Linked DNA regions of Homo sapiens. The protein of the gene in region 1 purifies or fractionates together with the protein of each later gene. This does not show direct contact. Each region holds a gene or a part of one and is shown on either strand. Other genes may lie near its edges.

The links.
Region 2: the proteins of TAB1 (region 1) and TRIM45 purify together in Homo sapiens (affinity purification with western blotting, with the first as the bait; one study listed by BioGRID). This does not show direct contact.

What each region holds. Positions count from the first base shown.
Region 1 is NC_000022.11:39,406,274-39,409,797, forward strand, and holds part of TAB1 (TGF-beta-activated kinase 1 and MAP3K7-binding protein 1), read left to right. Parts: intron 1-3,524. UniProt on the Homo sapiens protein: Key adapter protein that plays an essential role in JNK and NF-kappa-B activation and proinflammatory cytokines production in response to stimulation with TLRs and cytokines.
Region 2 is NC_000001.11:117,111,732-117,115,255, forward strand, and holds part of TRIM45 (E3 ubiquitin-protein ligase TRIM45), read right to left. Parts: intron 1,755-3,524; coding exon 1,628-1,754; intron 723-1,627; coding exon 574-722; 3' UTR 1-573. UniProt on the Homo sapiens protein: E3 ubiquitin-protein ligase that plays a role in the regulation of inflammatory response.

The DNA of each region.
Region 1 (3,524 bases):
CTGTAATCCCAGCTACTCCAGAGGCTGAGGCAGAGAATTGCTTAAACCTGGAGGGGCAGAGCTTGCAGTGAGCCAAGATCGCGCCACTGCACTCCAGCCTGGGCGACAGAGTGAGACTGTCACCAAAAAAAAAAAAAAAAAAAAAGGAATCATTTGAGTGAAAGATAGTTTCTTGAAGATGGTCAGTGGATGATTGAGGTTTGGGAATCATGGGCCTCTGGCCCTAGTTGGATTTGAGCAGTGCCTTTAGGGTAGATAGGACTTAAAAAGACAGAAAGGGACAGGCTTTGCCTTACCATGGGTACTTTTACATATGCTCTTTGGGTAATTTTTTTCTTACTCTTTCTTTATTTTTTTTTAATTTATTTTTTATTTTTGAGACGGAGTCTTGCTGTGTCGCCCAGGCTGGAGTGCAGTGGCGCCATCTCGGCTCACTGCAAGCTCTGCCTCCCGGGTTCACACCATTCTCCTGCCTCCGCCTCTGGAGTAGCTGGGACTACAGGCACCCACCACCACGCCCACCTAATTTTTTTGTATTTTTAGTAGAGACGGGGTTTCACCGTGTTAGCCAGGATGGTCTCAATCTCTTGACCTCATGATCTGCCCGCCTTGGCCTCCCAAAGTGCTGGGATTACAGGCGTGAGCCACTGCGCCCGGCCTCTGGTCACAGTTTTTTAGAGATTGTTTGGAACAGTGAGTAGAAGGCCTTGTCTGTACAAGATACACAGCTGAGTGAGATTGTTAATCTGTCAAAGGGCAAAATTCAAAACTTTCGACAGTCTGGAAGGCTGGGATGAATGCATTAAGATGTAATTCGACTGATATAAATTTAGATTTAAAACAACCTTCTATAGTAGTTTGGCTGGGGGAGACAGACATGGTAGAAACTCACAGGAAAAGGACTTTGTTATTTTACATTACATAGAGGCTAGATGCTCATCTTCTCTTGGGTATATGAAAGCTGTTGATTTGCATACTTTGATTTTCTATCCTGCCGCCTAACTGATTTCTTTTTCTGTTTGCATTAGTTTTTCATTGATTCTTTAGGGTTGCCAGGCGTACTGTCCTATCAACTGCAAATAGAAATGACTTCTTTCCCGGTTTTTATGCTCTCATTCTTTACTCTGTCTAACTGCCTGGGCTAACACCTCCAGTTCTGTGTGAAGTAATAGAGTGGGCAGCCTTGCTATGGCCCTGATCATTTGTTGTTGTTTTGTTTTTTTTTTTTGAGAGGGAGCCTCACTCTGTCTCCCAGGCTGGAGTGCAGTGGCGTGATCTCGGCTCACTGCACGCTCTGCCTCCCGGGTTCCAGCGATTCTCCTTCCTCAGCTTCCCGATAGTAGATGGGACTACAGGCGTCTGCCACCACGCCCGGCTAATTTTTTGTATTTTTAGTAGAGACGGGGTTTTGCTGTGTTAGCCAGGATGGTCTCGATCTCCTGACCTCGTGATTCGCCGGTCTCGGCCTCCTAAAGTGCTCAGATTGCAGGTGTGAGCCACCGTGCCCAGCCTAATTTTTTGTATTTTTAGTAGAGACGGGTTTTCACCATGTTAGCCAGGATGGTCTCAATCTCTTGACCTCGTGATCTGCCCGCCTCAGCCTCCCAAGGTGCTGGGATTACAGATGTGGGCCACCATGCCCAGCCCTATGGCCCTGATCTTAATGAAGTGTTCCCCACTGAGTAAGTTGCCAGCATTAGGGCTGAAGTATACAGAGTAGCATGTTCAGAAAGGAGCCATCAGTTTCTGTTTTCTGGAGTGTTTTTACCAAGAATGGACCAAGACTCCTTAGATAAACAATAGCACTAGTGTCCATACTTACTGACCCAAACACCATTTGCCAGTTTATAAAATAATAAATTCCAGAAATATTACTGCCTCAACATTATGAAAATCAGATTTCCTAAAAAAGTACTTAGCAGTGTTGAAATATCTAGACACTATTCACGGGTACTTAATGAACAAGGCACGTGCTCAGTAGATTGATTGCCGTCAGACACACAGTTTTTCTCATTTGGGAAAGTTAGTTATTCCCACATCAGCCAAATACAGCACAGCATACAGTGGTCAGTAGATCATCAGCTTACTCCTGGTCTCCTGTTGTGAAACGCTCTCAGATGAATTGTTCTTGTGCCATGACACACCAACGTGGCAAGTTCCTCAGTTGCCTGTTTGAGCTTGTTTCTTTCTTTACTTGTGGAAGACAATTTCACTGGCGTTTTTTGTTTTTGTTTTTGTTTTTTGAGACGGAGTCTCGCTCTGTCATCCAGGCTGGAGTGCAGTGGCGTGTGCGATCTCGGCTCTCTGCAACCTCCACCTCCTGGGTTCAAGCAATTCTTCTGCCTCAGCCTTCCGAGTAGCTGAGACTACAGGCGCTTGCCACCACACCCGGTTAATTTTTGTATTTTTAGTAGAGACAGGGTTTCACCATATTGGCCAGGCTGGTCTTGAACTCCTGACTTGGTGATCCACCCACCTCGGCCTCCCAAAGTGCTGGGATTACAGGATTGATCCACCGTGCCTGGCCTCACTGGCCTTTTTTAATAGTGTATGTCTAATGTGGAACAGACCCATAAGTTGCTTGGGTCTTATTTATTTGGCTGGGAAACTATGGATTTTTTTAGAAAGATTCAAGTCCTTGGAAGCCTGTGTCTGTCCCTTATGGGAATTAGATACTGGCAGAGGAGGTAACTGTGATTACAGCATCGAAGACAGGTTTTGCATTGTGGTGACACATTTGTGTTAATATTATTCATCTCATATGAGAGGATGAGTTCATCTTAATCTCATTTTTAATCACAGCCTTCTAGAAAATAGAAATATCTTTTCCTCCCATGCTTTAAAACACCTGTGGCACTTTGGGGTGCTAAATATTGACTTCTTTGGCCATCTTTTCAGGAGGAAGACATGGGATACTCCTGACTGGGTAGATGCTTTTGTATTTCTGCTTAACCTCATAATTAATTTCATTCCAGCTGGTGGCAGGAGACAGACTAGAAAAGGAGCTACCTTTGGAAGTATATTTGCCTGGTTATAGGAGACTTTTGTGAGCTCGCTGGAAATGAAAATATACTAAGCAGATCTAAGACATAGGGGATAATTGGCAACATTTATCAGTTACCTGAAGAATACTTAATTCACTGGTTATTAACTCATTCCCATGGCCCAGAGGCCTTGCACTGCCCTCCCCCCCAGGCACATACGTGCACACATATTTGCAAACACGGCATGGAGCGTCTTTCCCCTGTGCTCACTAGAGAGGCCACACCAGCCTTCTCGTGCTTCCGTAAACCTGACATGCTTTTTTCCATCTTAGGGTCTTTTTACGTTCCGCTCCCTCTGCCTGGAAGCCTCCTTCTCTGCCTTCTAGAAGGTCACTGCCCCATAGTCATTCAGGTCTGGCTCAGACGTCACCTCCCCAGAGAGGTCTGCTTTTCTGACCACTTCATCTAGAGGCCCCCACCGCCCATCACGCTGTGTCCCATTACCATGGTGTGTTTTCTTCCTAGCACGTAGCGCTGTCT
Region 2 (3,524 bases), on another chromosome or scaffold:
GAGTTTGAGACCAGCCTGGCCAACATGGTGAAACCCCGTCTCTACTAAAAACACAAAAATTAGCTGGGTGTGGGGGAAGGTGGGGGGGAACCTGTAATCCCAGCTACTCGGGACACCAAGGCACGAGAATCATTTGAACCGGGAGGCAGAGGTTGCAGTGAGCCGAGATCATGCCACTGCACTCCAGCCTGGGTGACAGAGTGAGACTCTGTCTTTAAAAAAAAAAAAAAAAGAAAAAAAAAGGGTTATATCAGAAAGGAACTAAACTACCTAGACCCTTCAGTGCCAATGGAATAGATACCTCCATACTGTACAAAATGAAAAGGAGTATCCTGTGGTAGAAAAAGAACGTTGCCAACCTACCTTTAAGAGAAATGTAGAGGTGGTTTTTTGTGCTCAACCATCCACAAGTACAATCAGTGAATAACTAACAAAAGAGCACTTGAACTCCAGTGCAAGATAAGGCACTTTGTTTTTAATTCTATCAGTCTCTTTAGAATGAACGAAGGTCTGGGTCCTCTGGAAATCTCAAGTGGTGCTGCCTGCAGCTTTAAAAGGCTGAGCACAAACCCATCAGAGAGCCACAGTCCTAAGTAGACTCCTCGGTGCGCTCTGCCCACCTGTCCATGTGCATTCAGATTTCTCATTAAATTTTCCACAGCATGACCAGTGGGGATGACCTGGGTGGCCTTTGTGTCCATGGCCACAGCCTAGGTACCCACCTACATGGGACAAAGAGGAAAGGACAAAAATCAACCATTAGCGTGGAGGCCAGCAGTTACCATTATCATGGAAATTAGACCTCCTGGCAACATGCAGATTCATGGGAGTGAAAATATCTAAGAAAATCTTGGCAAGAGGAACAAGCTGTCTGACTGTTGTGCAGTCAGGAGGACCCTGAGAATTGATCACAGCAAATCAACTCATGTTAGCCGGAGTTCTAAGAATGCTGTAGTGATAGAACTTACCACCTGAAGGAGGCGAACTAGTTTGCACATTAACTGTAAAATAAATTGGTTTGGATTTTAACTGTAAAATCATTGAAATAAAAAAGGATAGGTTGGTGGACATTAAAAAAATAGAGGTAGATCCTCAAGTGTTTATACAGAAGGATGCAAAAGCCCATTTTATGGCCCATTATTAGAGTAAGGACACAATAATTTTTTTTTAAAGTAATTAGATCCCTAACCTAAACTGACTCCCTATCCTTTCTGTCCCCCGAAAGACCCAGACCTTGTTCAATTGGTTTAATCATCCACTCCCCTAGCCATGCCTCATTTGGAATTTATTTAAGGTTCTAAAAGGAATAAGATGGGTCCATAGTTTTCACACTGCTTAGGCCGCTGGAAAGGGACAGACAAACTGAGAATCCTACATAGAAGCACAGGGCTCATAGGAGCTGTACCAAAACTAACAGAACTGAGAGCTTTTAAGTCTGCTATTTCAATTCAGAACAAGGAAGCTTTAAGTGACACTTTTAGAACAGTGGTGTCTCTACAATCACAGACTGTGCTTCCTAGAAACAGAGCCTAAGTCCAAATGTCTAGTGGCTGTGTGGTAGGGAAGGGCCCGTCGCTTGATTCCCACTGCTGGCAGAAAGGCCCAGAGGGTAGTGCTTTCTCCTTACCTGGCATGGTGCCTCCACAGGCGCAGCGAGCGGTTTTCTGGCCCCCGCTGGAGCAGAAGGTGCAGCAGTGAAACACGCCTGAGTGTGGGCGGTGCTTTCTCCTCACCATCACAGTGAATGGCGAGCCCTGCAGTGTTCAGACCAAAAGCAATGAACAGCATCTTACGAGTTAACAGGATGTGCTGCGCATCACTATGTGCTAAACAGAGTCTGAGGCACAGGGCCTGTCCTTGGATGGACAAGGACAACAGGAAAGAAACAGATTAGAGGACAAGAACCCTGCTCAGCTGAGAGGAGGCAGACACAGATGCAGTGGAAGCATCACAGGGTCTATGCAGCCCTCCTACCATGCTTTTCACCGCAGATGCTAAGTACTAGACGTAGGTACTGATTTATTCCATGTAGCTGAACCTGCTGGACACTGAAAGGAGTCACACAGTCAGCTCCATTTTCAGTGACATCTGTATTAGCTGGGAATAATTGTTCTGGCAAGATGGCAGCAAAAGCAGAAGCCCATGCCACAATAAGCTTAAGCTTTTCTTGATGGATTCTGCCTCACTCTATCCTTGTATGAAGTATAAGTACCTAGATCATTCAATACATTAGTAATCTCAGACTGACTTTTCTCTGGGATTCTCAATCTCAATTCTTAAGGAACCTCAGGTATAATAAGTAGAATGTCACAACCACAAAGATAGGACATTCTGTGGTCCCTTCTCCAATTTCTCAGCCATGTACCTCTTCTCACATACCAAGCTAGCCTCTTTCCTTCCATCCTGGACATGACTTATCTGTTTACTCACCCACTTATTCTGGGACTGTAAAGACATATGGAAGGGAGAAAGGTTAAAATGTGTACAGCTAATAATTCTCAAATTAGTAACTCTCCCATCTGCCCCCTTTCCTTTAAGGATAACTTTCGTTCTCTAATTTATATCCCATGTTAAACAAAAAATATTTATTTATTTTTTTAAAGATGGGATCTCACTCTGTCACCAGGCGGGAGTGCACTGGCACATCCATAGCTCACTGCAGCCTTGAGCTCCTGGGCTCAGGCAATCCTCCCAAGTAGCTGGGACTACAGGTGCACACCATCATGCCCAATTTAAATATTTAATAAGTTGCAATGTGCCTATCCTTATGTGAGAGCCACATTGTTTGCGAAAACGCAAAACAGAGAACCTAGCACCTTAGAAGTCTTTCAGATGTTAAATTTCCCATCTTAAAGAGTTTACAATCCAGTTAAAAAACAACTTGGCATTCAAAGAAATGGGTTCAAATTCCTATTTTGCTACATTTGCTGTGTATTTTAATGCAAGTTTGGTGTCTCAGTCTAATTGGACACTGATCCCTGTGCCTGAAGGGTTTTGAGGCAAATTGAAATAATGTATGTAAAAACACCTAACCTGTTCCTGACATACCATAATTAGGTAAACAATAAATGGCTATTAAATATGAATGTTCCTTAGTGCACAAATCATAAGCCTAATATATCATGATGCTATATGGTATTTTACTGTCCCTGTCAGTGTTGATTTCTGTGGAGGGAAACCTCTGACTACTCCAATGTCAGCAGAGAGATTCTGCTCGACCTGTTAGTATCACCCAATTTTTAAAAACTCATACTCTCTAAAGCAGAAAGTGCTCTACTTGTGTTATACTTGTTTGTAGAAACCATGGTAACGTAACTTGTTTGGTATATTTGTTTGTTTATAGGAACCATAGTAACAGAAAAACCTATATGTAAAACAGAGTAGAAAATTACATGAGCAGATGGTTAGGCAGATAGATGACTAGTCAATTGTGAGGAGGGGGCATAACCCTCTCAACTGTGTTCATGTCCAGACACAGTCTGGACAAAACTGGAAAATCCTGAGCTAGATTATATTTTTTGAAT